Linked DNA regions of Homo sapiens. The protein of the gene in region 7 purifies or fractionates together with the protein of the main gene of each other region. This does not show direct contact. Each region holds a gene or a part of one and is shown on either strand. Other genes may lie near its edges.

What was found.
Region 1: the proteins of LUC7L (region 7) and CLASRP purify together in Homo sapiens (affinity purification with mass spectrometry; 3 studies listed by BioGRID and IntAct, with this or other methods). This does not show direct contact.
Region 2: the proteins of LUC7L (region 7) and DDX50 purify together in Homo sapiens (affinity purification with mass spectrometry; 3 studies listed by BioGRID and IntAct, with this or other methods). This does not show direct contact.
Region 3: the proteins of LUC7L (region 7) and SRRT purify together in Homo sapiens (affinity purification with mass spectrometry; 3 studies listed by BioGRID and IntAct, with this or other methods). This does not show direct contact.
Region 4: the proteins of LUC7L (region 7) and ACIN1 purify together in Homo sapiens (affinity purification with mass spectrometry; 3 studies listed by BioGRID and IntAct, with this or other methods). This does not show direct contact.
Region 5: the proteins of LUC7L (region 7) and MKRN1 purify together in Homo sapiens (affinity purification with mass spectrometry; 3 studies listed by BioGRID and IntAct, with this or other methods). This does not show direct contact.
Region 6: the proteins of LUC7L (region 7) and PRPF38B purify together in Homo sapiens (affinity purification with mass spectrometry; 3 studies listed by BioGRID and IntAct, with this or other methods). This does not show direct contact.

What each region holds. Positions count from the first base shown.
Region 1 is NC_000019.10:45,037,755-45,041,844, forward strand, and holds the start of CLASRP (CLK4-associating serine/arginine rich protein), read left to right. Parts: upstream 1-1,290; 5' UTR 1,291-1,354; intron 1,355-2,429; 5' UTR 2,430-2,458; coding exon 2,459-2,557; intron 2,558-4,090. Other genes in the region: transcription factor RelB, read left to right, coding at 1-36. UniProt on the Homo sapiens protein: Probably functions as an alternative splicing regulator. May regulate the mRNA splicing of genes such as CLK1. May act by regulating members of the CLK kinase family.
Region 2 is NC_000010.11:68,932,315-68,935,814, reverse strand, and holds part of DDX50 (ATP-dependent RNA helicase DDX50), read right to left. Parts: intron 1,617-3,500; coding exon 1,455-1,616; intron 1,017-1,454; coding exon 897-1,016; intron 1-896. UniProt on the Homo sapiens protein: ATP-dependent RNA helicase that may play a role in various aspects of RNA metabolism including pre-mRNA splicing or ribosomal RNA production.
Region 3 is NC_000007.14:100,881,603-100,885,102, forward strand, and holds part of SRRT (serrate RNA effector molecule homolog), read left to right. Parts: intron 1-56; coding exon 57-203; intron 204-450; coding exon 451-639; intron 640-2,467; coding exon 2,468-2,637; intron 2,638-2,765; coding exon 2,766-2,950; intron 2,951-3,137; coding exon 3,138-3,236; intron 3,237-3,320; coding exon 3,321-3,438; intron 3,439-3,500. UniProt on the Homo sapiens protein: Acts as a mediator between the cap-binding complex (CBC) and the primary microRNAs (miRNAs) processing machinery during cell proliferation.
Region 4 is NC_000014.9:23,058,064-23,061,100, reverse strand, and holds the end of ACIN1 (apoptotic chromatin condensation inducer in the nucleus), read left to right. Parts: coding exon 1-17; intron 18-1,626; coding exon 1,627-1,953; 3' UTR 1,954-2,537; downstream 2,538-3,037.
Region 5 is NC_000007.14:140,455,506-140,459,005, forward strand, and holds part of MKRN1 (E3 ubiquitin-protein ligase makorin-1), read right to left. Parts: intron 1,362-3,500; coding exon 1,147-1,361; coding exon of another isoform or gene 1,143-1,146; exon of another isoform or gene 710-1,142; intron 396-709; coding exon 285-395; intron 1-284. UniProt on the Homo sapiens protein: E3 ubiquitin ligase catalyzing the covalent attachment of ubiquitin moieties onto substrate proteins. These substrates include FILIP1, p53/TP53, CDKN1A and TERT.
Region 6 is NC_000001.11:108,691,143-108,695,109, forward strand, and holds the start of PRPF38B (pre-mRNA-splicing factor 38B), read left to right. Parts: upstream 1-1,167; 5' UTR 1,168-1,449; coding exon 1,450-1,725; intron 1,726-2,447; exon of another isoform or gene 2,448-2,500; intron 2,501-3,967. UniProt on the Homo sapiens protein: May be required for pre-mRNA splicing.
Region 7 is NC_000016.10:205,450-208,949, forward strand, and holds part of LUC7L (putative RNA-binding protein Luc7-like 1), read right to left. Parts: intron 3,216-3,500; exon of another isoform or gene 3,152-3,215; intron 2,740-3,151; coding exon 2,629-2,739; intron 699-2,628; coding exon 555-698; intron 1-554. UniProt on the Homo sapiens protein: May bind to RNA via its Arg/Ser-rich domain.

The DNA.
Region 1 (4,090 bases), on a different chromosome or scaffold from region 7:
GGCGGCCTCCTATCCCCGGGGCCTGAAGCCACGTAGCCCCGCGATGCCAGAGGAGGGGCACTGGGTGGGGAGGGAGGTGGAGGAGCCGTGCAATCCCAACCAGGATGTCTAGCACCCCCATCCCCTTGGCCCTTCCTCATGCTTCTGAAGTGGACATATTCAGCCTTGGCGAGAAGCTCCGTTGCACGGGTTTCCCCTTGAGCCCATTTTACAGATGAGGAAACTGAGTCCGGAGAGGAAAAGGGACATGGCTCCCGTGCACTAGCTTGTTACAGCTGCCTCTGTCCCCACATGTGGGGGCACCTTCTCCAGTAGGATTCGGAAAAGATTGTACATATGGGAGGAGGGGGCAGATTCCTGGCCCTCCCTCCCCAGACTTGAAGGTGGGGGGTAGGTTGGTTGTTCAGAGTCTTCCCAATAAAGATGAGTTTTTGAGCCTCCGGGGTTTCGTCTGTTCTGGGCTTGGGAAACGCCCTAGTCCCTTAGTAGCAAAGAAAGCCTCCAGGCTGGGGGCTCAGGCCTGTCATCCCAGCACTTTGGGAGGCCAAAGCAGGAGGATCGCTTGAGCTCACGAGTTTGAGACCAGCCTGGGCAACATGACGAAACCTAGTCTCTACAAAAAATACAAAAATTAGCCGGGCGTGGTGCTGCGCGCCTGTAATCCCAGCTACTCTAGAGGCTGAGGTGGGAGGATCGCTTGAGCCCAGGAGGTGGACGTTGCAGTGAGCCAAGACCGCACCACTGCACTCCAGCTTGGGCGACAGCGCGAGGCTGTGTCTCAAAAAAATAAAAAATGAAAATGAAAATAAAAAATGAGACCGGGCATGGTGGCTCATGGCTGTAATCCCAGCACTTTGGGAGGCCGAGGCAGGTGGATCACCTGAGGTCAGGAGTTTGAGACCAGCCTAACCAAAATGGTGAAACCCCATCTCTACTAAAAATACAAAAATTAGCCGGGCTTGGTGGCGCGCGCTTGTAGTCCCAGCTACTCGGGAGGCTGAGGTGGGAGAATAGCTGAAACCCAGGAGGCAAAGGTTGCAGTGAGCCTAGATCGCGCCACTGCCTTCTAGCCTGGGAGACAAAGAGAGACTCCGTCTCAAAAAAATAAAATTAAATAAATAAATAAAATAAAAAAGATAAAAAGATAAAGCATCCAAGCTCTTCCCTTCTCCGCTCTCCCACTTCTTCCTCGGGATCCCGCCCCTCTCGACTCTAGGACCCGCCTCTCTCGTCGGCGGAAGTGCGCTGCGCGGCCCTCCACCATGCTCCGCCCCCTCCCCCTAGCGCGGCCTTTCATTTCCGCTTCCGGTGCGGGCCGCGCGCGAGCGCAGCGGTGGGAGGCGGCGACCAGCCGGTGAGTGCAGGCTGCGGCTCGACCTCCCGGTTTTCGGGCAGGCCTCAGCCCAGCTTCTCCCTTTCCTCAGGCTCTCCCCATGCTGCTGTGGGCTTCTGCTGCGTCCCGGCCCCGAGGATCGCTCGTCCCTCACCCCATTAGGCCTGACGGGCCTCAGGCCGAGCCCGTGCCCCGGCTGTGGGCCAGAAGTTGCCGCGTCGAACTCGGCCTTCGGCCCAGCAGCTTATCACAGGCCCCGCCCCCTTGTCAAAAAAAAAAACAACAAAAAAAAAACCCAGCCCAAATCCTCAGGCCGCGACGCGATCCACAAGCCCCGTCCAAACCTTCGGTCTCCGCCCTTTCCCGCAAGCCCTGCCCCCAAGCTCAGCCCACGCCCTCCTGTCAGCCAGCTCCGCCTCTCTCAGGCTCTACGCTCTTTTTCTTTGGATGCTCTCCCCACCCCGCCATCTAGATCCCATCTTTAGACCTCAGCTTCACTCTGGTCTCCTTGCAACACTCCCTCCCCGTGTTCCCACTCCCTCTAGCATCTTCATCTTCCGCCACGCCCTTCACCTGTCCTCGACCTCCACCTTCATACAACTGCACTGTTCCCTTAAAAGCTTTCTCCGATTTCCTCCACCTGCCTTCATCCTTATTCTCCTTATCCCTCTACCACCCAGACTCATACCCAACCCCACGCATGGCCCCTAGTGGGAGCCTTTTCAGTTCTTCTCTTTCTCTTGAGCTCCAGCCTTAAGTGCTCAGGGTTTGCCTTCTGACCCTACTTCAAACACTGCTGATGTTTCAAAACCTTTCATTCCCGACTCCAGCGCGTGGAATCTAGGACACCCCTTTCCCAGTGATGCTCACCTCAGAATCACCTGAGGGTTTTTCAGAATGCCCAAGCTTCTAGATCGAAGTTGTTAGGGATGGACTTGAACATCTGGCATACTGTTCTGCAGCTTCACTTCTGCTCCCTGAAGCTAAGAGATGTGTTGTTTGGGATCGACTCTGCCACCAACTTGTTAGATGACTTTGATTCTGCCCATACGGGTTTCACAGACCATCTGACTTTCCTGGTCCCTTCATCCCTCAGGTTGAGGCCCCAGGCTTGGCCTCACCACAATGTGGCACGAGGCTCGGAAGCATGAGCGGAAGCTTCGAGGCATGATGGTCGACTACAAGAAGAGGGCGGAGCGGAGACGGGAGTATTATGAAAAGATCGTGAGTAACTGGCCTTTTGTCTGGGGTGAGGGACCCTGGGTTGGGGGGCACAGCTGGTCATCCTGGTAAAATCTGGGCTTGGAAGTATGTCAAGACAAGAGGCTCATTTCCTCAGGAGTATATTCATTAATCTTTTCTTGAGGATAATCATTGGTGGGATCCCAAGGGCTTCTGTTTGTTGTAGCATACTGTGTCGTTTGGTGTGGCCTCCCAGTGCCGATCCGGTGTTAGCAAGAAAAAGGGAAGTCTCTGTAACCCTCAGAGCAGTCCTGACGTTAGACTGGCCACCTCCAGAATGTCTGTTTCGCTTATTGCTGTGTTCCCCATTCCCAGAAGAGCTCAGCCACTCTTGAGATTTGGCTTGGCACACAATAGGAGTGAGTATTAAGTTGGCCTGGCACAGTGGCTCACGCCTGTAATCCCAAGTGGATCACCTGAGGTCACGAGTTCGAGACCAGCCTGGCCAAAAGGGTGAAACCCCATCTCTACTAAAGATACAAAAATTAGCCAGGCTTAGTGGTGTGTGCATGTAGTCCCAGCTACTTGGGAGGCTGACGCACGAGAATTGCTTGAGCCCGGGAGGAGGAGGCTGTAGTGCATGGAGATTGTGCCACTGAACTCCAGCCTGGGTGACAGAGCAAGACTCAACGCCTGTAATCCCAGCACTTTGGGAGGCCGAGGTGGACAGATCACAAGGTCAAGAGATCGAGACCGTCCTGGCTAACACGGTGAAACCCCATCTCTATTAAAATACAAAAAATTAGCCAGGTGAGGTGGCGGGTGCCTGTAGTCCCAGCTACTCGGGAGGCTGAGGCAGGAGAATGGTGTGAACCGGGGAGGGGGGCAGAGCGGAGCCTGCAGTGAGCTGAGATAGCACCATTGCACTCCAGCCTGGGCGACAGCGAGACTCTGTCTCAAAAAAAAAAAAAAAAAGACTGTCTCAAAAAAAAAGGAGTGAATATTAAGTGAAACCTGACCACTTCCCTCTCCTGTCTGATGCTTCAGTTGTTTTTGCGGGGAAGACCAAACTATCCCTGGCCTAAAAGACCCTTGTGGTCTGACCACTCAGCTTCATACTCGGACAGCTCCACTGGCCTTCTATTTCTGCCACCACAGGGCTTTGGCCTATATTACCCCCCCTCACCTATTTAACTCCTGTGTATCCTTGGGATCCCAGCTTGAAATGGCACCTGTTTTCTAGGTTCAGTGTTCCTGTCAGATGACATTTATATAGACCTTTCCCAGTTATTCCTGTATTACTGCCCCAGCCTCCTCCCTGGTCTGCTGGCCTCCAGTCCTGGCTCCTCCAGTCTGTCCTTCCTAGAAGAGTCCAAGAGGCCTTTCTAAAGCACAAAACTGACCCTGTCCCTTCGTTGCTCAGAGCACCTCTATGCCTCCTAAGTGCCCTTGAGAGAAAGCCCAGGCTCCTCACTGTGGCCTTTAGGGTCCTGCATGGCCTGGCCTTTGCCCTTCCTCCAGACTCACACCACCCCACACTCTGCCTTGTTCCTTTGCACAAGTCATTTTGGCCTC
Region 2 (3,500 bases), on a different chromosome or scaffold from region 7:
TGCCCAGGCTGGAGTGCAGTGGCGTGATCTTGGCTCACTGCAACCTCCACCTCCTGGGCTCAAGCAATTCTCCTGCCTCAGCCTCCATAGTAGCTGGGATTACAGGTGTCTACCACCATGCCCAGCTAATTTTGGTATTTTTAGTAGAGATGGGGTTTCACCATGTTGGGCAGGCTGGTCTCAAACTCCTGACCTCAAGTGATCTGCCCATCTCCGCCTCCCAAAGTGCTGGGATTACAGGCGTGAGTGACTGCACCCAGCCAAGATCTTTTTTTTCTCATAAATCATCAATTACAAATTTCAGAAAGAGAAAAATAATTTTTTGAATTGCCCCTTAGTTACAATCATGGAATTTCACTTGTAAAACAAGCCTGATTTGAAAAAAAAACAAAACAAAACAGATGTTTAAATCTATCAGCTTTTTTCCTTATTACACTATCTCATTTTACAAAGTATATGAAATTGCATATAAAAACACATATAAAAATAGGAAAAAATGTGAAATACCACAAAAAATCCAGACCACAGAAAATGTACAGTTTCTTTAGAAACTGTCTATTGTACCATACTTAAAAGAATCTTAACTATTATACCAAGACAATCTTTTAGTCACCCATTTACACTAAGAAGTACTGAAATCACAATGCACTTCTGATTTTAGTATGAAGAGAGAAATTCAAGGAAAAGATGAGAAAGTCAGCTCCACTGTCTTCACAATAAAAGCTGTATTAAAGTCTTGAAGCTAATATAAATTTAGATCTCCACAGGCTTCACAGCCAAATGCAGCTTAAACTGAGAAAAGTTATGAAGACCTACTTGTAAGAATAAATATAAGAAGAGCTCTCTTTTAAGGCACCATTTAGACAATAAGCCTGAAATAATTTAACTCTACTTACTGCTTTTTGTTCCACATATCTTAGTTGACCTCTTTCTCTTGGTTGATAAAAACATATACAAATCCCTGTCCGTCCAGCTCTACCTGTGCGTCCAGAGCGATGGATATAGGACTCAACATCCTAAAGATTATAAAAGGTAATATTTTTTAAAAATCTAGCAAGTTGCAGTCATTCCGGAATCCAAATAATAATGTTAATAATAATATATTTATTTCAATCCTGTTGCCCTTTTCAACATTCCAAACAATTTATATGTGTGGATTTTGGGGTAAAGGCAATATGATTTAAAACCTTTTAATCCACCTCATCCCAGGTTTCTTTATGGCAACTTTTTGTAATTCTCTGCCTGATTTTGTTGCTCCATGCTTCAAATACAAACAATAGAGTTAATCATCTGCAAAAGTATCAGAATCTGATAAATTTAATAGCACACTAACAAAAAATGGCTAAGAGCAAGAAGAGATGACATATTTTTCACATCCCAAGCAATATGTTGTAAATTAAATGGGAATTTATAAAATTGCTCTTATTTTTCCCAAATCAAATCCCATTTCCTACCTGAGGAGGAGAACTTTGAATCACCAGGTCAACTTCAGGAATGTCCAAACCACGGGCAGCCACATTGGTTGCCACCAAAACTTTAAAACTACCTTCTCTGAAGCCTTTTAGTGTAATTTCTCTTTGTGACTGTGCAATGTCCCCATGTAAACACTGGGCATTCTATTTGAGAAAGGGGGAGAAAATTAAGTGTACAGCTCATACTTGCAACTGATAGCACAACAACATCTAGTCTGTGCTCCTTTTGCATGTTTTTAAATCTTACTTTGATGATTTTAACAATGCATGCTTACTGTAAAAAAAAAAAGTCAAACATGACAGAAAATATTTAACATAAAATGTAAAAGCTTCCCTAATACTAGTGACTTAGAAATAATTCACTGCTAAGAGTTTGGTAAATATTCTGTCAGATTTTTTTTTTTTTTTAGACAGAGTTTTGCTCTTATTGCCCAGGCTGGAGTGCAATGGAGCGATCTTGGCTCACTGCAACCTCTACCTCCCAGGTTCAAGCGATTCTCCTACCTCAGCCTCCCGAGTAGCTGGGATTACAGGTGCCTGCCACTATGCCCAGCTAATTTTTGTATTTTTAGTAGAAACAGGGTTTCACCATGTTGATCAGGCTGGTCTTGAACTCGCTGACCTCAGGTGATCCGCCAGCCTCTGCCTCCCAAAGTGCTGGGATTACAGGCGTGAGCCACCACACCCGGCCACTTTTTTTTTTTAATACACACATACTCACATTACACTAGCATATACTATGACTTTATGTATTTATTTATAACGTGGATATTACATAGGTAGGGTTTTGTAACCTACTTGATAAATTTAGTGTATCTTAGCTATCCACATCTATAGATAAAATGCTACTTAATTTTTTTAAACTGTATATAATTTATTCATATGGATGCACCAGCATCTATTTTAGCAATATCCTACTGATGAACTTTTGGGCTGTATTCACATTTTCACCTTTAGAAACAATGCTGCAATGGGCCGGGCATGGTGGCTCACACCTGTAATCCCAGCACTCTGGGAGGCCGAGACAGGCAGATCACCCGAGGTCAGGAGTTTGAGACCAGCCTGGCCAACATGGTGAAACTCTGTCTCTACTAAAAATACAAAAAATTAGCTAGGCGCAGTGACAGGCACCTGTAATTCCAGCTACTTGGGAGGCTGAGACAGGAGAATAGCTTGAACCCGGGAGGTGGAGGTTGCAGTGAGCTGAGATCGTGCCATTGCACTCCAGCCTGGGGGACAAGAGTGAAGCTTCATCTCAAAAAAAAAAAAAACAAACAAACAAACAATGTTGCAATGAACAACTTTGTAACTTTGTACTTGTATCTCTGGATGCCTCAGTATCTGTATATTTCAGTAGGATACATATCTAGAAGTTGAATTTCTGGGTCAAAAATTATGAACATGTAGCATTTTAACAGAAACTGTATTATTTAAAAAACTGTATTATAAAAAAAGTTGTGTACCTTTTATTCTTCAATACTCTATGAGTATTTATTTCAACATACCCTACCCAGCTTGTGTATATTATAAATCATTGTAATCTTTGTGAATTTAATAGGCAAAAATAATTTCCCAATGTTGTTTTAATTTACATGTCTGTAATTTTTAGTGACACTGAACCTATTTATATTAGGTAGATCTTCATCTCTGCTGCATTAGTGACACTGAACCTATTTATATTAGGTAGATCTTCATCTCTGCTGCAAATTTCCTGGTATTATAAATACACTTCCTAGTATTCCTGGCCACTATATTAAAGTCAAAAAGTTCATAACAATGATCAGGCCAGGCTCAGTGGCTCATGCCTGTAATCCCAGCACTTTGGGAGGCTGACGTGGGTGGATCACTTGAAGTCAGGAGTTCAAGACCAGCCTGGCCAACATGGTGAAACCTCATCTCTACTAAAAATACAAAGATTAGCCAGGTATGGTGGTGCATGCCTGTAATCCCAGCTACTCGAGAGGTTAAGGCAGGAGAATCATTTGAACCCAGGAGGTAAAAGTTGCAGTGAGCCGTAATCGCTCCACT
Region 3 (3,500 bases), on a different chromosome or scaffold from region 7:
ATGCTCTGGGGAGGTGACTCCCTTCTCTGCTTTACTTTTGTGTCCCCCACCTTCAGGGATGAGCACAGCTCTGACCCATACCACAGTGGCTATGAGATGCCCTATGCTGGGGGGGGTGGGGGCCCAACTTATGGCCCCCCTCAGCCCTGGGGCCACCCTGACGTCCACATCATGCAGCACCATGTCCTGCCTATCCAGGCCAGGTAAGGGTGGGGCTTCTCAGAAGAGGGTTGGTAGGCCTGGGGGATGGATGGGGTTGCTGAAGGCCATGGCTGAAGCCAGGGAGCGGGTCAGGCACACAGAGGCATGTCCCTGGGGTAGGGGTGGTAGCTGTTGGGGTTTGGGGTGATGTCCATGGTGGACAAAGTAAAGGGGCCCCAGCTACTTTGGCCCCTGTAGCCTCCCACCGTTCCCCAAAAACCAAGCCTTCCTGACCGGGGTCCCCTCCAGGCTGGGCAGCATTGCAGAGATTGACCTGGGTGTGCCGCCGCCCGTGATGAAGACCTTCAAGGAGTTTCTCCTCTCCCTGGATGACTCGGTGGATGAGACGGAGGCCGTCAAGCGCTATAATGACTACAAGCTGGATTTCCGGAGGCAACAGATGCAGGATTTCTTCCTGGCGCACAAAGATGAGGAGTGGTGAGTGCCCCTACTTCCCTGGACCTCTGCCCTGGCATGTCCCCCTGGCCCCGCTGGTGGAGCCACAGCCCTGTCCTCTTCCCAGTTTTCCCTGTCCAGAACTTTCTGGGGGCGGGGGTCGGGAAGTATGACAGCATTGGCTGATGGGGTCTCCCCCTCACTTCAGCAACTGCCACGGCCCCCGCCCCGCCCTGTCTCCTGTCCTGCTGTCCTCAGAGAGTGGGACACCTCCAGGCAGCAGGCCAGAGCCACTTGGCCCCTTGGGGCAGCAGACAGACTGCTTCCCACTTGTTGGTGTTGGGTCATTGTCATCCCTGATCACCAGGACCCTGTGTGGCTGTGGCGTCCTCCTAAAGCGACGAGTGAATCCAGACAAGAAAAGCAAAGATCTCGGTCGTTTGACAGAAAAAGAATTTTAATTTTTTTTTCCTTTTGTGGATGTTTTAATTTTAATCAACCATCTTTTCCCCCCTTCCTGCTCCTCCTCCTCCTCATCCTCTTTCTGCTCCTCCTCCTTGAAAAGAGCCAGAACTGGGAACTACACCCGCTCATCGACGGAGCTCGGAGCAAACCCACCTCCACCCCCACCATACCCAGCCCATACATGAGCCCCTGGGCTGAGCTGCGCGGCCCCGGCCAGGCAGACAGGCCAGGGCACTGCTGTGCACAATGCAGCGGTTTAGCTGAATGTGATTGCTCAGGCAGCTAGCCAGTCAGGCCCCACTGCGGAGTCCCGCGTGGGCATCTCGGCCGGGCGCCCAGCCAGGAGCCAGCCGGTGGCCCACCAGCCAGCATGGGCCCTGGGCGCCGCTAGTTAAATCTTGAGCTCTGTTTGACCAAGCGGCCAAGGTAAAGATCCTGGAGGTGATGCCTGCGGCTTTCCTTTCCTCTTCTGCCCCACTCGTGGTTCTGTTCTGTCTTCGCTGTCCCCTCTCTCGAATTGCTCTGTGTCTTTGTCCTAATCTCTCAGCACCTTCATTCTTCTCTGTTTCTGTTCTTGCTCCCTGCCTAACACCACCTTCTTCCCTGTTGGTTTTTTTAGTTTCTCTCTCTGATCTTTAGTTTTTCCCTTTGTTTTCGGTTTCTGGGACTTTCTCACACTCTCCCCTTTCCTCCCTTTCCCCTTTTCCTCATACTCCTCATTTCTTCTGTTTTCCCTCTGAGGTCCTATTTGAAATGTTTTATTTTTCTTCTCCCTAACCTTCCAGCCCTCTCCTCTCTCTCCCCCTGTGGGCAGGACCTGAGGCTCTAAAGGGCACTCCAGTGTCTCCCTTCGGTCTTTCCTGTCCCTTCACCGTCTTGCTTATCTTCCCACGGGTGGAGAAAGGTGCCCTGCCTCTGGGCTTTTGCTATCTGGCCCTCTGTCTTCCACCTCGGGGTGGAGGGAGTTGGCGGGAGCAGTTTTTGAATGACTGCAGTTTGGGGTTGGTGAGGAGAGGGAGGTTCTTCAGGGCCTGCTATTTCCTGAGCCTTCCTCTCTGAAGCTTTGGGAAATGACACCTTTTTACTACGTTAGTGTTTCCCAGAGATTTAAAGTGGTAAATCTGCCTCTCCTACCCTGGCGTCCCCCTGTAGTCATTGGTCTTCCCAAATCCAGAGCTCTTAGTTCCTGGTTCTCCCCCAAATCTTCACAGAACACAACTTCTGGTTCCTTTTGGGGTGTTGGGTGGTTCTAGCGCACCCCTATCCCTTAATCTCTCTATTTTGATGACCTTTTGTGGTTGTGAGAGGAAGGGGGATATGCCCTGTCTTTCCTGGGCCCCTTCCCACATCCTGGCCTTGGCTTCCAATAACTGTTTTGTCTTTCCCTCCCCCGCTTCGTTCCCAGGTTTCGGTCTAAGTACCACCCAGATGAGGTGGGGAAGCGTCGGCAGGAGGCCCGGGGGGCCCTGCAAAACCGACTGAGGGTCTTCCTGTCCCTCATGGAGACTGGCTGGTTTGATAACCTTCTCCTGGACATAGACAAAGCTGATGCCATTGTCAAGATGCTGGATGCAGGTGTGCGGATTTGGAGGGGTGGCAGGCATCTGGGCCCCATGGGGGTGGGGGTGTCTGGGGATCAGGTAGAAGCCGGTTGACAGGAGCCAGGGCCCTGGGGTCATGACCTCTGTTCCCTTTGTTGGTAGCCGTGATTAAGATGGAAGGAGGCACGGAGAATGATCTTCGCATCCTGGAGCAGGAGGAGGAGGAGGAGCAGGCAGGAAAGCCTGGGGAGCCCAGCAAGAAAGAAGAAGGACGGGCTGGAGCAGGCCTAGGGGACGGGGAGCGCAAAACCAACGACAAGGATGAGAAGAAGGAAGACGGCAAGCAGGTCCGAGCCCTGGGTCTCCTAGTGTTGTCCCTGGCAGCCTGGGGGAGGGGGGCGGGTAGGGGTCCATAGGAGCTAGAAGTAGGGGGCTGGGGAAAATGAACCTGTGGCCTCAGCTGTGGGGGTGGGGGCCCTCTGATAAAGGTGGGAGGGGAGGTTTGACATCCCCAGTGGTTGTCTCTTACCATAGGCTGAGAATGACAGTTCTAATGATGACAAAACAAAGAAGTCGGAGGGTGATGGGGACAAGGAAGAGAAGAAAGAAGACTCCGAGAAGGAAGCCAAAAAGGTGAGGTGTCTGTGGCCTGGGGTCAGAGTGTTGGGGCTGGGGTTCTGGCACGCTGACTTGTCCCCTCTGCTGTGGCTCACACAGAGTAGCAAGAAGCGGAACCGGAAGCACAGTGGTGACGACAGCTTTGACGAGGGCAGCGTGTCAGAGTCTGAGTCGGAGTCAGAGAGCGGCCAGGCTGAGGAGGAGAAGGAGGAGGCCGGTAGGGTTTCTTTTCTGCTTTAAAGTGCGTTCTCCTAATGCGGGTGGGGAGGTGAGAGGTTG
Region 4 (3,037 bases), on a different chromosome or scaffold from region 7:
CACTGACTGACAGCCAGGTGAGTGCTCTTCTTCGTGCCCTGCTCCCTAGTGGCACTGAGGCTTGAGGTCAGGGTGAGGGGAGATTCATGTGACTGCGAGAGTGAGTCGGCCCAAGTACTTCCTAGGTTTAGGATAAACTAAGCATCACAAAAAGGCAGTTTTCAGTTAATTGGTATAACATAGAGAAACCAGACTCAGGAGGGTAAAGATAGACACGCAGATAGCAGCTGAAGTTTGTGGATGTCTGGGAAGCTGGCTGTGCCGACCAGGCTTCTTAGAACTTGATTTTAGGCCGTGCGTGGTGGCTCACGCCTCTAATGCCAGCACTTTGGGAGGCCGAGTCGGGTGGATCACCTCAGGTCAGGAGTTGCAGACCAGTCTGGCCAACATGGAAACCCTGTCTCTACTAAAAATAACAAAAATTAGCCGGGTGCAGTGGCAAGCGCCCGTAATCCCAGCTACTTGGGAGGCTGAGGAGGAGAATTGCTTGAACCCGGGAGGCGGAGGTTGCAGTGAGCAGAGACCGTGCCATTGCACTCCAGCCTGGGCAACAAGAACAAAACTCTGTCTCAGACAATTAAAAAAAAAAAAAGAACTTGATTGTATTTAGCTGAGAAATCGTGTTTTATAAATTCATTTCCCTGCTTTTTAAGAGTTTTTGCATCTTTAACTTAGTTTCTTAGTAATGGGCCTTTTGGGAATTTTAGGCTTATGCTACTCAAAAAAGAGATTTGTTCACATCTACGCTGACGGTAGGGAGCTAGGGAAATACCAAGGGCCAGGCATGGATGGTGCCAGTACCTGTCAATGTGTGTAAAAGTTGAAACTTGGTGGCTAGGCATGGTGGCTCATGCCTGTAATCCCAGCACTTTGGGAGGCTGAGGTGGGCGGATCATCTAAGCCTCCATCTAAGCCAGGAGTTTGATACCATCCTGGCCAACATGGTGAAACCCCATCTCTACTAAAAATACAAAACTTAGTGGGGCATGGTGGCAGACACCTGTAATCCCAGCTACTAGGGAGGCTGAGGCAGGAGAATCACTTGAACCTGCGAGTCGGAGACCACAGTGAGCCAAGATAGCACCACTGCACTCCAGCCTGGGCGACAGAGTGAGACTGTCTCAAAAAAAAAAAAAAAAAAAAACTGGCGGGGCGCGGTGGCTCACGCCTGTAATCCCAGCACTTTGGGAGCCTGAGGCGGGCGGATCACGAGGTCAGGAGATCAAGACCATCCTGGCTAACAACGGTGAAGCCCCGTCTCTACTGAAAATACAAAAAAATTAGCCGGGCGTGGTCGCGGGCGCCTGTGGTCCCAGCTGCTCAGCAGGCTGAGGCAGGAGAATGGTGTGAACCCGGGAGGTGGAGCTTGCAGTGAGCCGAGATCGTGCCACTGCACTCCCAGCCTGGGCGACGGAGCGAGACTCCGTCTCAGAAAAAAAAAAAAAAAGGCTGAAACTAGGAGGGAGAGAGGTGCTCTAAGAAAGACAGGATGCAGTTGTTGAGCCCCCAACCCCTTCCTGTTTAACTGAAAAGCTGACCCTGAGCTAGGAGGCAGGGTCCAGGCACAAATGGAGGCTGTGACCAGGACTGAGCTGCCTATTCTCTGCCTTTCCTACCTGGCTACAGATCGTTCAGAAAGAGGCAGAGCGGGCCGAACGGGCCAAGGAGCGGGAGAAGCGGCGAAAGGAGCAAGAAGAAGAAGAGCAAAAGGAGCGGGAGAAGGAAGCCGAGCGGGAACGGAACCGACAGCTGGAGCGAGAGAAACGTCGGGAGCACAGTCGGGAGAGGGACAGGGAGAGAGAGAGAGAAAGGGAGCGGGACAGGGGGGACCGAGATCGGGATAGGGAAAGGGACCGAGAACGAGGCAGGGAAAGGGATCGCAGGGACACCAAGCGCCACAGCAGAAGCCGGAGTCGGAGCACACCTGTGCGGGACCGGGGTGGGCGCCGCTAGCTGGGAAAACACTAGAGCTGCAGGTACCAGCCACTCGGCCCCAGGGGGTTATGGCCACAGAGGGATAGGCACAGTCTCCACCACCCTGGAGCCAAGGGTCTTTCACATCACCTATCCCTACATACATACCAAATGGAAAAGTGGCCATCCTTTTCCCCCCAAACACACCCCCTTAACCTATCTCTTGGGACTTAGCCCGACCCTCCCTCTCATTTCCCATTAAGTCTGAGAGGCAAGAGCTAGGTTAGGCAAGGAGGTGGTTGGCCAGAGATGGGGAACAGCCAGGTGCCCCAGTCCTCTGATTTTTCCTCCATCCTGCTTACCACCTCCCTGGGTACTTACAGCCTTCTCTTGGGAACAGCCGGGGCCAGGACTGGGTCACCTATGAGCTGAATCAGCATCTCCTCCTGAGTCCCAGGGCCCCTGCAGTTCCCAGTCTCTTCTGTCCTGCAGCCCTTGCCTCTTTCCCACAGGTTCCACTTTATATCCACCTTTTCCTTTTGTTCAATTTTTATTTTTATTTTTTTTATTATTAAATGATGTGGTCTATGGAAAAAAAAATAAAAATCTGACTTAGTTTTAAACTGTGTGAGTGGCTTTCTTTGGGCAGGTTAAGAAGCCACTGTGGATATCTGAGCGTGGACATCTGAGGATATCTGGAGTAGGAGTTGCTCTCATTCCATGTGTTCCTTTAGGCTGACTGCTTCCTGCTTATTGAACTTCCCACGTCTTTTATCCCCTGCCTTGGCCCTGACCAACCCAAAGCTGTGGACCTTCCTCATTCGGGAAGGCATGGAGCAACCTGTGTCCGTGGCGGCACCCCAGCAGGGCTAGGAGGGTGGGTCCTCTTCTGGTTCCTGGTCCTGTGCACGGTTAAATTAGGGGTTTGGTCACCTGCCTGCCACCTTGGTGCCTCCCACAACTACCACCAGGGGGCGGCAGCTCCTCGCTCTGTTGGCCCCTGTAACCGAGCTTCCCAAGAAGGGTTCCACTGCCCGCCTCCGACCTCCCGCCGATGTCGTGCCTCTGTTCCCGACCCGCTCCCTGGGCCCGGGCCTCGGACTCTCTGGACCCTTCTGCCGTC
Region 5 (3,500 bases), on a different chromosome or scaffold from region 7:
GGACAGCTATGACACGGATTCAGAATAAGGTAGAACCCCACTCATGGGGCCTTACTTGTCAACAGTAGAGACCTCTTTATAACACAGTCCCTTGGCATGGACCCCAAGGACTGTGTTATAGCAAGATATATACTGGATGTTATCAGGGTGACAAAATAAACTGTCCTGGGAAGTCAAAGAAGGGTAGGAAGGAGGTAGGAGTGTATAATGCAGCACCATTCTTTTCAAAGTGAACCCAAGCTCTGTTGGGCTCTTCGCTTGAGAAAAGGCTGCAGTGCTCATACCTCATTGCCTCCTTGTATTTCAGAATGAGTTTCTGCTTCTCTTCTTTCTCCTCCACCCAGTACTCACTTGGAATGACAAAGTTAGATGTGATCCGGCATTCTGGGCAGGACCTGGGAAACAATGAACAGGCTGCAATGCAAATTCCCCTTTTACAGGCCCACTCTTCAAGGACACACCCTGGTGTGTCGCCTCCAGACTTAAAGACTTAACTGAAAGGCACGTGGGCATTTCCTGAAAGGGTTCCACATACTGTCACACAACTGACCATTTCTTTCAAGCAAGGCAACCTCCTTTATAAATCCAACTCAAGGGCTAGCCAGTTCTTTTTTTTTTTTTTTGAAAAATATAACTTAGGTAAAAAACAAAAACAAAAGAAGACATTTCACACAGACTCCTTTTTCTTTCGTTTAAATAAATTTATTTCTTGTAGCTTTGCTCTGTTTAGATTATGTGGTTTTTGTTCAGTTATGAGAACAATCTTTAAAGGATGGTGGATTGTTGGCTAGCTTAATGAATGGAATAGGAAAGTGGAAATGTAAAACGTCAGGAAACATACATTCAGAGCTAGATCAGTTTGTTCACTGAGCCTAAACTGGCTAATAATCCATTAAACACAATCTCCTCAGAAAAAGCACGAAGATTCTAACTGATACACAGGGTTTCCTCATTCAAATAAAAGTAGATAGACCAACTAACCTAGAAGCTAGCTGAAATACAAAGAAGAAATCCCCATTAGAATATCCCAGTTTCAAGATAAAATGCATGCATTTAAATGCGGTCCATCTGGTTGAAAGTTGGCACAAGTTACTAAATTCTTCCCCAAAAGAGAAAGCACAAATGAAGACTGGGGAGGAGTCTCACTTTATGATCTTGCTCTCAAATTGCTTAGCACTCCTCCACTTGCGAATGCACTTGAGACAGTAGGTGTGGTTGCAGTTGGAGAGGATCCCGAAGCGGCGCTCACTGGGGTTGGCTTTCTCATAGACCACCTCCATGCAGATCCCACACACCATGTCCTTGCTGCGCTGCACGGCAAATGAGAGCTCCATGTCCTTCTCATGGGCCTCAATGCACGACTAGAGAAGGTGGAGAGAGAACAAGTGGAATCCAGTCATTGAACCCTGAAAAACTTGAGCAACAGTTAATGATTCACAGTCAAAGAATCAAATAGTCAACTGAAAAAACAATGTTCCCAAGCTGACACGAAAATTAGCTTTGCTGACAAGTAAACACAGGTGTGGTGTTTTTTTTTTGTTTGTTTGTTTTTGCGGTGGTACTTAACAATACTAGAAAATCAAACTATGAGGACTCAACTTCGGGAACTGAAAAATTACCCAATTTTCTCTACCCCAAACCTGGAGCTCAACTACATTAAAGACGGTTTTCCATACTGTTTGTTATTTCTGGTTTCTACATGAGGTTAAGACCCTAGTTAAAACCTGTCGGAAAATAAGGGTGACAGGCACGTAAACTCTCTTATGCCTTTAAAGAAAAACAACTTCATCGAGATTTTTCAACTACTCAGCTTGATAGACTGATGCACACTTAGGTTAGGTTAGATTAGCCCACTTTGGGGCTATTATAAATAATGCTGCCAAGAACATTCATGTACCAATTTTTGTGTGGACATCATATTTTAACTTATAAAAAACATGATTATAGGAAACATAAAAATGCAGAAAACTCCCAGCACTTTGGAAGGCCAAGGTTGGGTGGATCACATGAGGCCTGGAGTTCGAGACCAGCCTGGTCAACATGGCGAAACCCCATCTCTACTAAAAATACAAAACTGAGGCAGGCGTGGTGGTGCATGCCTGTAGTCCCAGCTATTCGGGAGGCAGAGGCTGCAGTGAGCCGAGACTGCACTGCTACACTCCAGCCTGGGGGACAAAGCAAGACTCTGTCTCAAAAAAAAATAAAAATAAAAAAAATAACACTGCAGAAGAGCAATGTCATCCATAATCTCACATCATCACTAAACATGTCTTTTCCTAAACCTTTAAAAGAAAAAACATATATACATATATTCAGAGGTAGGTTCTACTACCTCAATATATAGATATAACGTATAGAGATTTATCCTGCCTAAATTCACAAAAGTACGCTGAAGATAGGGATCAAATTATGTCTACCTTATAACATGCCTCACACCCTAAAACCACATTTAAAAAGATGGAAATTTAAAAGAGATGGAAATGATTAGAAGCAAACTTTGCTCCAATAAAGTTAAAGTTTCTAACACAATGTCTTCTGAACCTACCCTGGCTCCCATACACTGCTGCTGGAAATGTAAAATCCTGCAGCCACTGTGGAAAAGTATGGCAGTTCATCAAAACGTAAAGCAGAGTTCCTATGTAACCCAGCAATTCCACTCCTAGGTAACGGAAAACATATCTTCACAGAAAAACCTATATACAAATGTTCCTAGCAGCCTTATTCATAATAGCCAAAAACTGGAAATGATCTAAGTGTCCATCAACTCATGAATGGAAAAACAAATGTGGTCTAGCCATACAAAGACAATAATTCAGCCATCAAAACTAAGAACGGCTACACGCAACCACACAAAGAACCTTGAAAACACTATGTTAAGTGAAAGAAGTGAAGTCAATCACAAAGGACCACATTACAGGATTCCATTTACATGAAATGTCCACAATAGGCCAATCCAGAGACAAAGCAGATTCGTTATTGCCAGGAGCTGGAGGAAGGCTGGAATAAAGAGTGACTGCTAATGGGTGTAGGATGATCAAATTATCCTAAAATTAGTAAAATGGTAATGGTTGCACATCTCTGTAAATATACTAAAAACCAATGAAATGTGCATTTTCAAAAGATTAAACATATTCAATGTGAATCTCAGAAACATTATTTTTTAAAAGAGGAAAAAAATGTTAGAAGTCTATAGTCTGAGTTTCTGGAAGTAGGACTTCTTTTTTTCTTTTGCCTCAACCTCCTGGGCTTGAGCGATCCTCTTGCCTCAGCCTAACAAGTAGCTGGGACTATAGACACATGCCTCCATGCCCAGTTAATTTTGTTCACTGGAAATATGACTTCTTGATAAAGCATCCAAGAAGCCCAAGAAAGGAAAACTTCCCTACTCACTGATAACCATTCAATTCATCAAATGTTTCTCTGAAATAAACCCACAATGCTGTGAAAGGGCAAATAATGATTCTCACATCTAATAACACACACATCTCCCTAAAGACTTA
Region 6 (3,967 bases), on a different chromosome or scaffold from region 7:
TAAACTAGTATTATCAAGGCAAAAAATATATACACAAAAAGAACTGGGTTAAAAAAAATTTTTTCTATGGACTTTTAACGTGATAACTCATGACACAGGGGTTAGGATCTTCAGTTTTCCTTTGGAAGTTAATAAAAACCACTATAGAGAAAAACAAGATTTGCTAGTAAGAAGGTGAAAACTGCTTCTCCTCTCAGGGTTCTAGTTCTCTTGCAACCTAAAACAAAGGAACCAGACAGGATATCCACTTTCGTACCGTACAGCTCCAAACACTAATCAATCACTCCATTCACTTATCTTTTCTATTTCCTTGTATTCTGTCAAACAACTGTCTCTTGGTTTAAATACTTTTCTGCTGGTCTTCGCTCTCTCTCTCTCCTCTTCTGGTTTATTTTCATCCAGATGTGGATTTTCCCCAAAGTTTCCATCTTATCCTTTTCTCCTCCTGTGTATGCGCCACTGAAGTCAAGATTGCCACATTCAAACTCCCCACACATTCACACACCCACTCCCAATATACAGTATCTCGCCCAATGTTTATCACTCCGGATACATTCCTAGAATCCAAAGATCTGGAGCAGGGAGAAAAAGAAAAGGCGCCTACCAGATGCCTGGAACAGTCTACTAGGCACTACAAGTACATTAGCTCTTTCAATGCTCACAACAGCCCAGCCAGATGTTATCTCAATCTTACGGATGAATAAATTTAAGACTTCTGGCTGGACACTAGAGGCTGGCGAAGTACGTGACCTTTGATCAGAATCTCCTGGAGGAGTGGGGTCCCTGACCATTGTACCTTCCAGAGAACCTTAAAACTGAGATCCCAGGAGACCCCTCTCGGATACTCTGCAGAAGTCAGAGTGACGATATTAGCAAGCACACCGCAGCCATGCGAACCCTTCCTGGCTCAGCTCCCGACAAAAGAAATCAAGCCCCCAGTCAAAATACAACAACAACGGATTAGGCCTACAACCCTCTCCCCCGGCCCCCAAATTCTCAGGAGAAATCCCCTAAGAGTCAGGTACGGAGGTCACTGCAGCGACTTCAGCGTGCAGAGAACGCGGGGACCTAGGAAGAGGACGCTCCAGCCCAACTGAGCGTCTCTGATTGGCCGCCAGCTCAGCTTGGAACGCTGGGGTGCGTGGCGTCATATCCGCCGGGCCCGCCATCTTGTTCCCAGGGGCAGTTGGCGGAAGAGATCGAGCTCCCTGGCTGCCGGCTCGCCTTCTGCGTGGAGTTCTCGCGGTCTGGGTTTCGCTGTCTGCTCTTGGCCCGGGGTCATTTTGTCGGCGTCGGGTGCCCTCTCTTGCCCAGCTGGGGCACAGCGAGGCGGCCCCTTCTCCCGACGACGTTCGATGGAGTAGGGTCCCAGACCGTTGTCCCGAAGAGCGAGATCGAGCTTGGCCCCCTCCCCCCCCTCCTTCCCTCCCTCCTTCCTTCCGCCGCAACATGGCTAACAACAGCCCCGCGCTGACAGGCAACTCGCAGCCGCAGCACCAGGCGGCTGCAGCTGCGGCTCAGCAACAGCAGCAGTGCGGCGGCGGCGGCGCTACCAAGCCGGCGGTCTCCGGCAAGCAGGGCAATGTGCTCCCGCTCTGGGGCAACGAGAAGACCATGAACCTCAACCCCATGATCCTGACCAACATCCTGTCGTCGCCTTACTTCAAAGTACAGCTCTACGAGCTCAAGACCTACCACGAGGTGGTGGACGAGATCTACTTTAAGGTACGAAGTGTGTAGGCCTTGGCTTTGGGGGTAAGTTCGGAAGAGGGGGTATGGAGGAAACGGGCGAAGGCGGCCCCCGAAATCTGAAGATTTGTGGGTGGGGGAAGGTGGTTCGGCGGAGGGGTGGCTGCGGCCTGTAGTGTGTCTGGGAGGGGTCGGACTGGGGCCGCCCTCTCGTTTCCATTTTAGATTTTTAGGGCCGGGAGAGCCCGCCACTATTGATCTCTCTCCTCCCCCAACCTCCTGCCCACCCCTGGGGGGAGTTGGGCAAGAGGGATGGGGGAGAGGAGGAAAGAGTAACAGAAGCCTTTCCAGTTTACAGCTTTAAAATTATTCCTTTTGACGTGGATCTGCTGAGCGCCAACTTGTTGGTGCTTCTCCCGCTCACCCCTGGCCAGGGCGTGTAATGACTTCAGTATTGGCCTCGTGTTGTTGGTACTCACTATCCGATCCAGGCAGGGAAATGGTCAGTGCGTGTGTGTCGGGTGGGGTGGGGGGATGAGGGTGGAGAGGTGCCATTTCAAGAGGTGTACAGAAGGCCTGGAAATTTTCCCAGCAGGAAGTCAGGAGTAAGAGGTCTCAGCCACCTGTGCATTGGGCTAATTTAGAATTATCTGGGCCCTGGGCTTCTGCGGCAGGGTCGGTGCTGGCTTGGCTGTGCTGGGGAGCTCACCTGGCGCCTCCTCACTGCACTCTTGTCTCAGTTCTTGTTTCGTTAGCAGGATTGACTCAGTCTTGCAGCGAGGCTCGGAGCAGCCCAGGGTCGCAGGTAGAGGTATGCACTATTAATCATGCTCAATCGCCATAAATGCATTTCCCTGGTTAAATGAACGACTAATTAGATTTTTGTGGGTTTTTTTGGCCATTGCTTTTGGTCCTTCACCAATTAGGTAGGCTTTTTCCACTTCCCTGCAAATTATGTAGTATAAAAAATACCTTCCAGGCCTCCGAAAGTTAATTTCTATTTTAAAGAATATTAATAATAGCCTTAGTGGTCTTTAAAAATTTTATCCGGAGCATCTAATACACAATCCATTTTTGTCTATATTCACTCTTAAAAACTTGACAGACCGCACAAAGTGTTTTCTATCATTTGAACGTATGTGTAGAGATGGTAACAAAAGGACATTCTCTTTTGTCTTGCCCACCTTTTCCCCCAGTTGAGTAATTAGGTTATTGAAGGATTTTGAGAGATTAGTTGCTTTTTATAGAAAACATCTCTTGAATACAGTTCAACTTTGGGTTGATAAAGTACACAAATAAATTTGGAATCCTCTTACGAGAGTAGGTCTGATTGTAATTCTATGAATTAGTTTTTTTAGCTTTTAAAAGGTAAGACCTTTTTAGCATGGATACAGTATGGTGAATAACATTTAATCCTTAGCTTTATTTATGCAGTAAACTTTAAACAGTTGAAAATTGGGTTCCTGCTCTTTCTGCGGCAGGTTCTGTTTTCTAACATAGGCAAAATGTTAATGTAATAGAGGAAAGTCTCGTTTTTAAGTTTCAAATGTGTTTTGAAACAAGATTCTACCAGGAATTGTTTTTAAATTCCGTTAAAAAACTAAAGACCCAGTTTTTTTACTAATATTAAGAAGACTTAAGACTTTCAGATCAAATACTCACTGAAATTTATAAGTTTCCAACTTTGTAATTTTATTTTGTATGCATCCAGCCCTGCCTTTGGCTAGCTTTTAAGGAATTGAAACATCTTTTACATGGCAATCTGTGGGGAAGAAAGGAAACGTTAAAGCACTGCAAAATAGTGTAGTGCTTAAACTTACATGCACGCTTTTCTATCTAAAGCCATTGTTCAGGACTACAAAATTTACCATGTGGGTGGAAATAGAATTTTAGAAATATGCAGTGAAAAAACAGGATTTTTTTTTATGTTTTTAAAAAAAAACAAAGATGGGTCTTCCCAAAAGACCTTTTTGGATTCTATTTTAGAGTTAATATTCTTTTGTTGTTGTTGCTGTTGTTGTTGCTATTTTTAGATAAGGACTAGTTTTTGTAAGATGTTCCTCTTAGCAAATATGATACTGTATCATCTTTGATGATACTTAGTATATGCCAGTGACTATTCACACTCAGTTTTTGACACAATTTATATTCTGGGGAATAATTGGATTGGTTCACACATAATTAGGCTGAAGCTTAATTACAACAATGATCTCTGTAAGTGTGGCCTTTGTAATTTTATCTTTAATCAGGAATAAACCTGACCCTGGTGGAAAAAATG
Region 7 (3,500 bases):
GATAATGACAAGTCAACGTAGACCCACTGACTGTGGGCAGATGCTAGGAATGGAGGAGGCTGTCTGAGGAGAGGGTACATGGAGAATCTCTGTACTTTCCTCTCAATTTAGCTATGAAGCTAAAACTGCTTGCAAAAACAGCGTTTATAAATTTTTTTGAGACAGAGTCTCGCTCTGTCGCCCAGGCTGGAGTGCAGTGGCGCAATCTCAGCTCACTGCAAGCTCCGCCTCCCGGGTTCACGCCATTCTCCTTCCTCAGCCTCCGGAGCAGCTGGGACTACAGGTGCCTGGCGCCATGCCCGGCTAATTTTTTTGTATTTTTAGTAGAGACGGGGATTCGCTGTGTTAGCCAGGATGGTCTTATCTCCTGACCTCGTGATCCGCCCGCCTCGGCCTTCCAAAGTGCTGGGATGACAGGCGTGAGCCACTGTGCTGGGCCCAAAATGTATAAATTTTTTAAAAAATGGGAGCAAGCATGGGCTCAATTAATTCCAACGGTCAACGCTGCCAAATTACTAAGATTTCTCTTGCCCTAAGGCACTTATCTCACCAACCTCAGCTTCTTTTTTCTTCGCACGAACTTTTTCCACTTCCATAAGAATCTTCTGGGATTCATCCACATTACCTTCAGCCCCTAGCTGTTCGGCTTTAGCAAGGAGTTTTCCTATTTCTTCATTTAACTCATGTACTTTTTCTGCCTGTGAGGAGAAAGAATGAGGTAAGCAGACATCTGAAAATGAAAGTGAATGCAAAGGCAACAAGGGTTTCTCCTGCTCCATTTCCAGTCTGAAAATAAGTGGAAGAGCTAAAGATCCACACTTAACAATGAAGGCATCCTTACTGCCAGCATTGAGACTGTAACCATAAACGAGTCCTATGTTCCAATGAAACCAGTGGCACCTTTGTCACTTCCGACATGCTTCCAAGGATCATCACAGATTGGTCATTGTCTAGGCTGTCTCTCTTTATGACTTTTTCTTCTGGGTATGGTAATAAAATGCCTAGGTTTAAATGTACAGATTTAAGCTGTAACCAAAATACCTAATTACTAGGATTTACCTTCTGAAACAAAATAGCACCGTTGGTCAAATTAGCAATTGCATAAATCCTAAGAAATGCTTTTACAACACTGAAAAGAAAAAACAAGGAGAGGCTTAGTTCCACTGAAGAGAAAAACAGAAGAGTGATGTAAATGGCACTCAGTCTAATTACATATAAATCTACCTCCTTTTCATTCTATGATATGGATGTACCACAGTTTGACCATTTCCTTACCAATTCTTTCCAGTTTTATGTGGAGATATTAAAGTTTAAAACAACATGCAGAGGCTGGGCATGCTGGCTCACACCTGTAATCCCAGCACTTCGGGAGGACAAGGCGGGAGGATTGCTTAAGCCCAAGAGTTCCAGACCAGCTTGGGCAACAGACTCCATCTTTATTAAAAAAAAAAAAAAAAAAAAAAAAGATGGCTGGGTGCAGTGGCTCATGCCTGTAATCCCAGTACTTTGGGAAAACGAGGCGGGCAGATCACGAGGTCAAGAGATCGAGACCATCCTGGCTAACACAGTGAAACCCCGTCTCTACTAAAAATACAAAAAATTAGCTGGGCGTGGTGGTGGGCACCTGTAGTCCCAGCTACTCAGGAGGCTGAGGCAGGAGAATGGCGTAAACCCAGGAGGCGGAGCTTGCAGTGAGTCGAGATCACGCCACTGCCCTCCAGCCTGGGCGACAGAACAAGACTCTGTCTCTTAAAAAAAAAAAAAAACCGACAATAATTTTTTTTTCTTTTGAGGCAGGGTCTCACTCTGTTATCCAGGCTGAAGCAAAGTAGCATGATCACAGCTCATTGAAGCCTCAATCTCCCCAAGCTCAAGTGATCCTCCCACCTCAGCCTCCTGAGTAACTGGGATACACATGTGCACCACCAAGCCTGGCTAATATATGTATTTTTTGTAGAGATGGGGTTTCTTCATGTTGCTCAGGTCTAAAACTCCTGGGCTCAAGCAGTCTGCCCCCACCTTGGTGTCCCAAAGTGCTGGGACTACAAGCATAAGCCACCAAACTCAGCGAAGAATATATTAAAATTAAAAAATAATGATAAACCATGTACAGAGGACGAAAATGGAGAGAATAAAAAGACAGAGGTAGCAGCTCCTGAGGGATGAGAATTCCATGACACATGAATGCTTGATCACAGCCCTCTATCCTTAACTGGAGTAAGGCAGAGAGTACTGTCCACACAATCAGTGCTGAGGGTCAGTTAATAGCTATTGACAACGCCGGGCGCGGTGGCTCACGCCTGTAATCCCAGCACTTTGGGAGGCTGAGGCAGGCAGATCACGAGGTCAGGAGATCAAGACCATACCGGCTAACACGGTGAAACCCCGTCTCTACTAAAAATACAAAAAATTAGCCGGGCATGGTGGCGGGCGTCTGCAGTCCCAGCTACTCGGGAGGCTGAGGCAGGAGAATGGCATGAACCCGGGAGGCGGAGCTTGCACTGAGCTGAGATCATGCCACTGCACTCCAGCCTGGGTGACAGAGGGAGACTCCATCTCAAAAAAAAAAGCTATTGACAAGCCAGTATTTTTAAGAACACACCAGACACCGAAGCCACCCAAGCATACCTTTGCAGAAACTTCCGCACTGATTTCCTCCTGTGTTTCTGCCAGCCGCTTCTTGGCGAGCTCAGTTCTCCGATCACATTCAGCAATAAAGGACTCCAAGTGATCCATTGCCTAGCACGGGAAAAGCACAGCGCTATAATCAATGATGTGTAAAGCGTAAAGTCTTAGAACCCATTTGCTTGATAGGAAATACACTCCTAGGTTCGTTTCTTTAAAGCCTGTACATTCAAGGGAAAGATCTTAAACTACACTACCACTAACGCATTCATAATTGCATTAAATCAAGGGGATCTGTTAAACAGAATGATTGTTTGGAAGCATGGTCTTCTCATTTGATTTACTTATTTCCAAAATTTGTAAAAGGACCTCCAACCCTCAATAACATTACAAAGAAATTCTGAGGAAAATTAAAACACTTGGCAGCAATTCATAGAGTTCTCGGAGGGACAGAAAAGGCTGAGCCTAGACTCGTGCTGGAGGCCCTCTTCTGGGGAGTTGTGAGAGATGCATATGATGTACTCACTGGTCTTTGTGAGCCACGTAAATATTATTCCCTCATGTTCTGAGGGTAGGGTCCCCCCTTTCACCTCAAAAACAAAACAATAGAACAAATATTACTGAGAGCTATGAATACATTTTGTTATTGCCTACTATCTAAAGTAGCAGGAAAAATTGGTTGCTATTTACCCAAAGAGATAAAGGAAAAGAAGCTGTAGACGTCAAATTGCTTACTCTGAAAAGGGTGGTGGGAAACATTAAGAGAACTATCATATGCTAAGGTTAATTCACCATAACTAGGCAAAGGCTAACATAATTTCAGATAAAAACAGAGACAGGACCGGACGCAGTGGCTCACACCTGTAATCCCAGCA